Homo sapiens: one gene and its partners. The protein of the gene in region 3 interacts with the protein of the main gene of each other region in a pairwise test. Each region holds a gene or a part of one and is shown on either strand. Other genes may lie near its edges.

Region 1 (3,660 bases), on a different chromosome or scaffold from region 3:
AAAGAGAACCTAAAGAATATAGGAATAAAGCTGGGTGTGGTGGCTCATGCCTGTATTCTTAGCACTTTGGAAGGCCGAAGTAGGAGGACTTCTTGAGCCAATGAGTTCAAGACCAGCATGGGCAACATAGCAAGACCCTATTTTTACAAGAAAATACATTTTTATGTTAGCCAGGTGTGGTGGTGCATGCCTGTAGTCCCAGCCACTGGGGAGGCTGAGATGGGAGGAGCTCTTGAACCCAGAAAGTTAAGGCTGTAGAGAGCCATGATCGCACCACTGCTTTCCAGCCTGGGTGACAGAGTGAGATCCTGTCTCAAAAAAAAAAAAAAAAAAAAAAAAAAGAATATAGAAATAGCAGATGCAGAGAGCAACCACTAGCTGTAAGGTAGATGGAGAGTACCCAAGGAAGGAACATACTTAGAAGACTCCCCACAAGCTCCTAACCTCCTCTTCCCCCATGCCAGGCTAAGATGCAGATCTTCTTGGGGCAAATGTGGCTATAGCAACTGGATAATAGAGAAGTTCACTGACATGCCACAGATTAGAGGTAGAGAGCTGGAAGCCATCAGCTGGGGTACTGGTAAAGCTTGCAGGGAAGCTGCCCACTAGGATGTCATTGAGACTTGCTGGAAAGCCACCTGCCGGGGCAGGTGTATGTAAAAGTGAGAAATGTCCTTCCCATCCAAAGCTTTTTAACTCTATCTTCAATAGTTTGTATTTGGGATACTAAATTACATTTCAGGGCACACAACTTTGATTTCAGAAATTAACAATAACCAGACCATATCATATGTTAAACGTGGTTGAGAAAATATTAAAAGCTTCCCGTTGGCACCCTGACATAAGAGCAAGAAGCACCAGAACCAGGAGTTGAGCACTTTCTTGGCAGTGTCCCTCCAGCACCACCTACTGATGTGGATAACTTTGTGCCTGCTGGCAAAGGAGAAATATTTTGAAGGTCCAGGTCCAATATTACAAAGCAGAGCAAAGATGGGTGGATTAGAAACTAAGGGACATAACTAGTGAAGGATGTTATCATCCTTCACTCATGTTATACTGCTTACTTTTCATGTTGTGCAATTATAAGGAGTAAGTAATTCTAAAATATATTACACTTTTTCCGTACATGGTACTTCAGTTTCAGTTTTCAGCTCAATTAGGAGCCATGCAACATCTGAAAGACCAATTGGAACAACGGACACGCATGATAGAAGCAAATATTCATCGGCAACAAGAAGAACTAAGAAAAATTCAAGAACAACTTCAGATGGTCCATGGTCAGGGGCTGCAGGTAATTGTTATATTTGAATACAAACAAAGCATCCCATTCACATTTTGGATTTCTAGGAAAATTAACTTTTCTTAATTAAAAGTGAGATGCAAGAGATACGTTTTATCAATTCAGTTCAATAAATATTCACTGGTTACCTACTCAGTATGATTATACTTACAGTCTCTAAAGATAATTTGTTTCTGAGGGTATTTCTGTCAACATCCTTGTTTCTCCAGTCATCTTTTTTTACCAGTCCAAATTTTAGTAAGTTTGAATCCATAATATAAAAATTATATTTTACATAAAGTTTTAGGTACATCTTGGGTACAGAATTTATAAATCAATCATCAGTAATATTTTTATTAAGATACCAGTATGTATGATTCAAATTAGTCTTATATGACCAACCAGCAGGACCACTCTAGGAGACTATGACTTTGGTAAAGGGAAACTTGGAGTGAAAACTACTTCTGTGTGATGTTATAAATTATAAATGATAAGTGATACAGAGCTGTCAATCCACAGACTAACACTAGTTACACTTTTTCTAACAATTGGAAACAAGATAACTGAAAGATTGAATATAAAGTTTCATATTTTATTCACTACTTATTTATTGCTAATTCTTCAAAGTGACTTAGCCTTGTTACTTGCTTTTTAAACATACTTTGTAGCTTGATTTTGCCTTCTTTTTAATGCTCATTCTTCTTTTCAATCTACAAAGCTCATTTTAACATAATCTTTATTTTTAAAGATGTTTTTGCAACAATCAAATCCTGGGTTGAATTTTGGTTCCGTTCAACTTTCTTCTGGAAATTCATCTAATATCCAGCAACTTGCACCTATAAATATGCAAGGCCAAGTTGTTCCTACTAACCAGATTCAAAGTGGAATGAATACTGGACACATTGGCACAACTCAGCACATGATACAACAACAGACTTTACAGAGTACATCAACTCAGGTAATGTTACTGAGCACAGCGGGCTATGGAGTGATCAGTGGTTGGAAGGCACACTATTGCTGAAGCAGAAATAAAGCTCTAATGATAAAATATCATTTCAAAATTTAATAGTATTTAGAAAGTATAGTATTGAGAGTGATTATTAAAATATTTTGTGCAAATCATGTTAGTATCAAATATTTTCAGCTTTTTTTTTTCTTTTTTTTTTTTTGAGACGGAGTTTTGCTCCTGTTGCCCAGGCTGGAGTGCAATGGCGTGACCTTAGATTACTGCAACCTCCGCCTCCTGGGTTGAAGCGATTCTCCTGCCCCAACCTCCCGAGTAGCTGGGATTATAGGCACCCACCACCATGCCAGGCTGATTTTCATATTTTTAGTAGAGATGGGGTTTCACCATGTTGGCCTGGCTGATCTCAAACTCCTGACCTCAGGTGATCGCCCACCTCAGCCTCCCAAAGTGCTGGGATTACAGGTGTGAGCCACTGCGCCTGGCTGAGCTTTAAAATATGTCACAATCTGTTTAAAGATGTAGTCTAGTAGTTATACCAAGTTCTTGTAACTTAGACTATTTCTGTGTTTAAAAGGTATGACTTGCTCAAGAGGCTGACCAGGAAGCCTGTTCCCATATGTGCAGAATAGACTGTTGGGGGAGGGGGCATAATGGTTTATTGAATATTCCAGAAAATGTTGGTAATTACTGTAGATCTGTGACTGTAAATCCCAAGGATTTAAATGAAAAATAGAAAAATGCCCACTAATTAGTCATTCACTTTGGGCATTTAACAGAAATTCTTTGAGTATATTTTATATCATCTCTATTACAATCACACTCCTTTCTAAAGTCATAGCTTGCCTTCCAGCAAGATATTCAAGACTAATTCATTCTCAGTTACCACGAGTCATTCCTTTGTGGTTATATTTCCCCCAGAGTAATATATCCTGCCACTTCTTTCTCTGTCATATTGTCATATTGTTAGAATGATGAATTCTAGCATACTTCCCAAATAATTATTTTCAGTTAATCTGTCTATAAAATCTCTTTATTTTTAACAGAGTCAACAAAATGTACTGAGTGGGCACAGTCAGCAAACATCTCTACCCAGTCAGACACAGAGCACTCTTACAGCCCCACTGTATAACACTATGGTGATTTCTCAGCCTGCAGCCGGAAGCATGGTCCAGATTCCATCTAGTATGCCACAAAACAGCACCCAGAGTGCTGCAGTAACTACATTCACTCAGGACAGGCAGATAAGGTAGTTGTCATATTTCATTTGTTATTTTTAAAATTGTAAACCGATTGATTAGAAAACAATAATTTGATTTCTTAATCAAATTTTTTAATGTGATTTTAATGAGATGCTCACTGCAGCCAATGTTCTTAAATTTGAAATAAAAACACTGAATGTATTCATTGTTTAAAG
Region 2 (2,951 bases), on a different chromosome or scaffold from region 3:
GAGGCAGTGGTTCTGGAGGCAGACACGTTCCCCGGGCATGCAGCAGGCCGTGGGACAGACACCACTGAAGGAGCAGAGTGAAATTAGGGCTGCTCTATTGGTATCCCCCAGTCACAAAGAAGTAGACACTTTTCCAAATGTTCGATTTAGGCCTTTAAGTTATGGTACCAACCCTTCTTTCAGGCATGGCAAGCCGGCTGCTCGGGCCCTCATTTGAGTCCTACCTGCTGCCCGAACTGACCAGATATGACTGTGAGGTGAACGTGCCCGTGCTGGGAAGCTCCACGCTCCTGCAAGGAGGGGACCTCCTCAGAGCCCTGGACCAGGCCACCTGAGCCAGGCCTTCTACCTGGGCAGCACCTCTGCCGACGCCGTCCCACCAGCTTCACTCTCTCCGTCTGTTTTTGCAACTAGGTATTTCTAACGCCAGCACACTATTTACAAGATGGACTTACCTGGCAGACTTGCCCAGGTCACCAAGCAGTGGCCTTTTTCTGAGATGCTCACTTTATTATCCCTATTTTTAAAGTACACAATTGTTTTACCTGTTCTGAAATGTTCTTAAATTTTGTAGGATTTTTTTCCTCCCCACCTTCAATGACTTCTAATTTATATTATCCATAGGTTTCTCTCCCTCCTTCTCCTTCTCACACACAACTGTCCATACTAACAAGTTTGGTGCATGTCTGTTCTTCTGTAGGGAGAAGCTTTAGCTTCATTTTACTAAAAAGATTCCTCGTTATTGTTGTTGCCAAAGAGAAACAAAAATGATTTTGCTTTCCAAGCTTGGTTTGTGGCGTCTCCCTCGCAGAGCCCTTCTCGTTTCTTTTTTAAACTAATCACCATATTGTAAATTTCAGGGTTTTTTTTTTTTTGTTTAAGCTGACTCTTTGCTCTAATTTTGGAAAAAAAGAAATGTGAAGGGTCAACTCCAACGTATGTGGTTATCTGTGAAAGTTGCACAGCGTGGCTTTTCCTAAACTGGTGTTTTTCCCCCGCATTTGGTGGATTTTTTATTATTATTCAAAAACATAACTGAGTTTTTTAAAAGAGGAGAAAATTTATATCTGGGTTAAGTGTTTATCATATATATGGGTACTTTGTAATATCTAAAAACTTAGAAACGGAAATGGAATCCTGCTCACAAAATCACTTTAAGATCTTTTCGAAGCTGTTAATTTTTCTTAGTGTTGTGGACACTGCAGACTTGTCCAGTGCTCCCACGGCCTGTACGGACACTGTGGAAGGCCTCCCTCTGTCGGCTTTTTGCCATCTGTGATATGCCATAGGTGTGACAATCCGAGCAGTGGAGTCATTCAGCGGGAGCACTGCGCGCTATCCCCTCACATTCTCTATGTACTATGTATGTATGTATTATTATTATTGCTGCCAAGAGGGTCTGATGGCACGTTGTGGGGTCGGGGGGTGGGGCGGGGAAGTGCTCTAACTTTTCTTAAGGTTTTGTTGCTAGCCCTTCAAGTGCACTGAGCTATGTGACTCGGATGGTCTTTCACACGGCACATTTGGACATTTCCAGAACTACCATGAGATGGTTTAGACGGGAATTCATGCAAATGAGGGGTCAAAAATGGTATAGTGACCCCGTCCACGTCCTCCAAGCTCACGACCTTGGAGCCCCGTGGAGCTGGACTGAGGAGGAGGCTGCACAGCGGGAGAGCAGCTGGTCCAGACCAGCCCTGCAGCCCCCACTCAGCCGGCAGCCAGATGGCCCCGCAAGGCCTCCAGGGATGGCCCCTAGCCACAGGCCCTGGCTGAGGTCTCTGGGTCGGTCAGTGACATGTAGGTAGGAAGCACTGAAAATAGTGTTCCCAGAGCACTTTGCAACTCCCTGGGTAAGAGGGACGACACCTCTGGTTTTTCAATACCAATTACATGGAACTTTTCTGTAATGGGTACAATGAAGAAGTTTCTAAAAACACACACAAAGCACATTGGGCCAACTATTTAGTAAGCCCGGATAGACTTATTGCCAAAAACAAAAAATAGCTTTCAAAAGAAATTTAAGTTCTATGAGAAATTCCTTAGTCATGGTGTTGCGTAAATCATATTTTAGCTGCACGGCATTACCCCACACAGGGTGGCAGAACTTGAAGGGTTACTGACGTGTAAATGCTGGTATTTGATTTCCTGTGTGTGTTGCCCTGGCATTAAGGGCATTTTACCCTTGCAGTTTTACTAAAACACTGAAAAATATTCCAAGCTTCATATTAACCCTACCTGTCAACGTAACGATTTCATGAACGTTATTATATTGTCGAATTCCTACTGACAACATTATAACTGTATGGGAGCTTAACTTTATAAGGAAATGTATTTTGACACTGGTATCTTATTAAAGTATTCTGATCCTACCACTGCTGGTGGCTCTTATTTCCTGTGGATTTATCATGGGCTATGCCAATGTAAAGTGAAGTATTAAGTCGTTCATATAAATTGAACATTAGCACAGACCTTTATGAGACTACTGAAGTGAGCTGATAAGACTGGTGAAGGAAAGACTGTGTTAAATACTTGGTAGTTGCCTAAGTCTGAAAATTCATATTGTATCTTCCATATTTCTGCAAGTATTTTTCTATCTATCTATCTATGTGCCTCGGGGCCATTTTTTGTATCCTATGGGGAACCCAAGGAAAGAAGTCATGGTCTCTGCTTTCAGAAAATTACATGAAGTCGTTTGAGAGCCACACTGTTCTGTATATTCACATAGTGCACTTTGGGATGGAGGTCCCGAAGGGAAAGGGGCAGCCTGGGCATTAGGACTTCAATTTGGAGGCGGCTGGGCTGGAGTAGGGTCTTCCCAGGTAGACTGTGATTGGGAAGAGCAGAGATCCCCTCGGCCAGAGACAGAGCACAGTGAAAGCCCAGAACTGGACATGAGCATGATATGTTCCCCAATTCAAATTTCACTTTTCCAGATCATGACCTGCTTG
Region 3 (2,585 bases):
CTTTGTGCTCATGTTGGCCATCTCGCCCAGCCACCTAGGCGCTGACCTGGTGGCAGCTCCGCATGCGCGCTTCGACGACGGCCTGGTGCACCTGTGCTGGGTGCGTAGCGGCATCTCGCGGGCTGCGCTGCTGCGCCTTTTCTTGGCCATGGAGCGTGGTAGCCACTTCAGCCTGGGCTGTCCGCAGCTGGGCTACGCCGCGGCCCGTGCCTTCCGCCTAGAGCCGCTCACACCACGCGGCGTGCTCACAGTGGACGGGGAGCAGGTGGAGTATGGGCCGCTACAGGCACAGATGCACCCTGGCATCGGTACACTGCTCACTGGGCCTCCTGGCTGCCCGGGGCGGGAGCCCTGAAACTAAACAAGCTTGGTACCCGCCGGGGGCGGGGCCTACATTCCAATGGGGCGGAGCCTGAGCTAGGGGGTGTGGCCTGGCTGCTAGAGTTGTGGTGGCAGGGGCCCTGGCCCCGTCTCAGGATTGCGCTCGCTTTCATGGGACCAGACGTGATGCTGGAAGGTGGGCGTCGTCACGGTTAAAGAGAAATGGGCTCGTCCCGAGGGTAGTGCCTGATCAATGAGGGCGGGGCCTGGCGTCTGATCTGGGGCCGCCCTTACGGGGCAGGGCTCAGTCCTGACGCTTGCCACCTGCTCCTACCCGGCCAGGATGGCTGAGGGCGGAGTCTATTTTACGCGTCGCCCAATGACAGGACCTGGAATGTACTGGCTGGGGTAGGCCTCAGTGAGTCGGCCGGTCAGGGCCCGCAGCCTCGCCCCATCCACTCCGGTGCCTCCATTTAGCTGGCCAATCAGCCCAGGAGGGGCAGGTTCCCCGGGGCCGGCGCTAGGATTTGCACTAATGTTCCTCTCCCCGCGGGTGGGGGCGGGGAAATTCATATCCCCTGTTCGTCTCATGCGCGTCCTCCGTCCCCAATCTAAAAAGCAATTGAAAAGGTCTATGCAATAAAGGCAGTCGCTTCATTCCTCTCAGACCTTCTGCCCTTCCTCCATCCGACAGCCCGCGGGAGGACTCAGACTCCAGCACTTCCAGCAGCGCCTGCCCTCTATGGACGACAGCCCGGAGCTGCCCACGGGCTGCAGCCAGTATGCCAGGGAGCTGCCCTCTTCTTCCACAACAGCTGGCTCTGGGGTTCTCAAGATTTATTCAGGATCGTGTTAACGGAGGCGGTGGGAGGATAGGGTCCCTGACGTGCCGGGGACACACACAGAGAACCCTCCCCGCCCCCGCAAGGGAGGGGGGAGGCTCGCTTTTTCTTAAAAATATAAATGTATTTATCTGCATTATCACGTCCCTGGGGCACCCAGCTGGCCGGCCCGTGGGCCACAGGGCAGGAAGGGAACAGGGCGTAAGTCTCAGCAAGGCGGAGGAGAGCTCCGCCAGGTGGGGATGTGGGGCAGCCTCACAGGGCCCCGTGCTGGGCCTGGTATCGGGACAGCACGGCGCGGTAGTGGGACAGCTCCTGGCGCACGGCCACAACTTCCTGCCGCAGCAGGGCGTTCTCCTTCTCCAGGAAGGCCGCCCGCACCGATATCTGGTTCTCCTTGAGCCGCCGGGCGTCACGGGACCGCTTGGCTGCCTCGTTGTTCTTGTACCGCCGGCTCCAGTATTTCTCATCCTGCAGGAGAAGAGGGGGAGAGCACTGAGGTCCAGAGGGACCCAGGTCCCAGCGAGAGAGGAAGGGAGCCCCAGCAGCGGGGCCTAAACCACACCAGGTCTCTGCTGGGATAGGTACCCAAGGGTCTGCCTTTCTAGGGCCCTGGTTGCTAAGGAGATTGGGCCCCTAGCAACAGTAAAGGCATGAGATAGACCCCCCACCCTCAAGCAACTCGCTTCAAGTCTCCACTCTGCAAAGCGGACCCCAGCCCTCCCCACATGATAAAGGCCTGCATGCAGTTAGCTCTTGCTTGCTAAGGATGCTTGTTCCCTAGCAACAAGGCCTTCATGGTCTGAGGGCTTCTCCCAATGAAGAGCACTGCCCTGCCCTGCACATTGCCTTTCCAGATCCTGGTTGCTAAGGAAAGCTTGGTGCCCTGGTGATGGGGTTTGGTGTCCCATAAAATCCTCGCAGAGCTGGGGCCTTCTGACCTGGTTGCCAAGGCAACCTCATCCATCCTTGGCAAACAAAAGTGAGGTCTAAGTGGTTTCAATGACTGTGGCCAGCCTCTGACCTGCTGGCCTTGAACTGAGGCCAGAGAATAGCCTCCTCCCCAGTAGGACCTGACTGAGAGAAGAGCTGTCTCTTAGGAAAGGGGACTATCCTGAGACCTCCCCAGAGGATTATACCTAAAGTCCTCCCATCCTGGAAGTTGGTTCCTAAGGAAGACTCCTCCTTAGTAACCAAGGACCACGGGGCTCAGAAAGATGCTCTCTACTCCACTATTTAATTAAAGCCCAGTTCCTGCTTGTGAGGGTAAATCCAGTCCCTAGCAACAGGGCCCTCTAGAAGGAGAAACCACTGGTGTAGATCTGACTTCCAGGCCAGTCCTAGGTGCTTCAAGTAGCTATGTGTTACGCAAGGGTATGGCAAAGTCTTGTTTGTTTTTGAGATGGAGTCTCGCTCTGTCGT

Evidence for each region.
Region 1: the proteins of DBP (region 3) and CLOCK interact in a two-hybrid assay, tested with the Homo sapiens proteins (one study listed by BioGRID).
Region 2: the proteins of DBP (region 3) and EPAS1 come close enough for resonance energy transfer, tested with the Homo sapiens proteins (one large-scale study listed by BioGRID).

What each region holds. Positions count from the first base shown.
Region 1 is NC_000004.12:55,442,264-55,445,923, reverse strand, and holds part of CLOCK (circadian locomoter output cycles protein kaput), read left to right. Parts: intron 1-1,138; coding exon 1,139-1,291; intron 1,292-2,027; coding exon 2,028-2,237; intron 2,238-3,289; coding exon 3,290-3,492; intron 3,493-3,660. UniProt on the Homo sapiens protein: Transcriptional activator which forms a core component of the circadian clock.
Region 2 is NC_000002.12:46,384,326-46,387,276, forward strand, and holds the end of EPAS1 (endothelial PAS domain-containing protein 1), read left to right. Parts: intron 1-183; coding exon 184-335; 3' UTR 336-2,372; downstream 2,373-2,951.
Region 3 is NC_000019.10:48,629,419-48,632,003, forward strand, and holds the end of DBP (D site-binding protein), read right to left. Parts: intron 1,635-2,585; coding exon 1,419-1,634; 3' UTR 612-1,418; downstream 1-611. Other genes in the region: SPHK2 (sphingosine kinase 2), read left to right, coding at 1-355. UniProt on the Homo sapiens protein: This transcriptional activator recognizes and binds to the sequence 5'-RTTAYGTAAY-3' found in the promoter of genes such as albumin, CYP2A4 and CYP2A5. It is not essential for circadian rhythm generation, but modulates important clock output genes.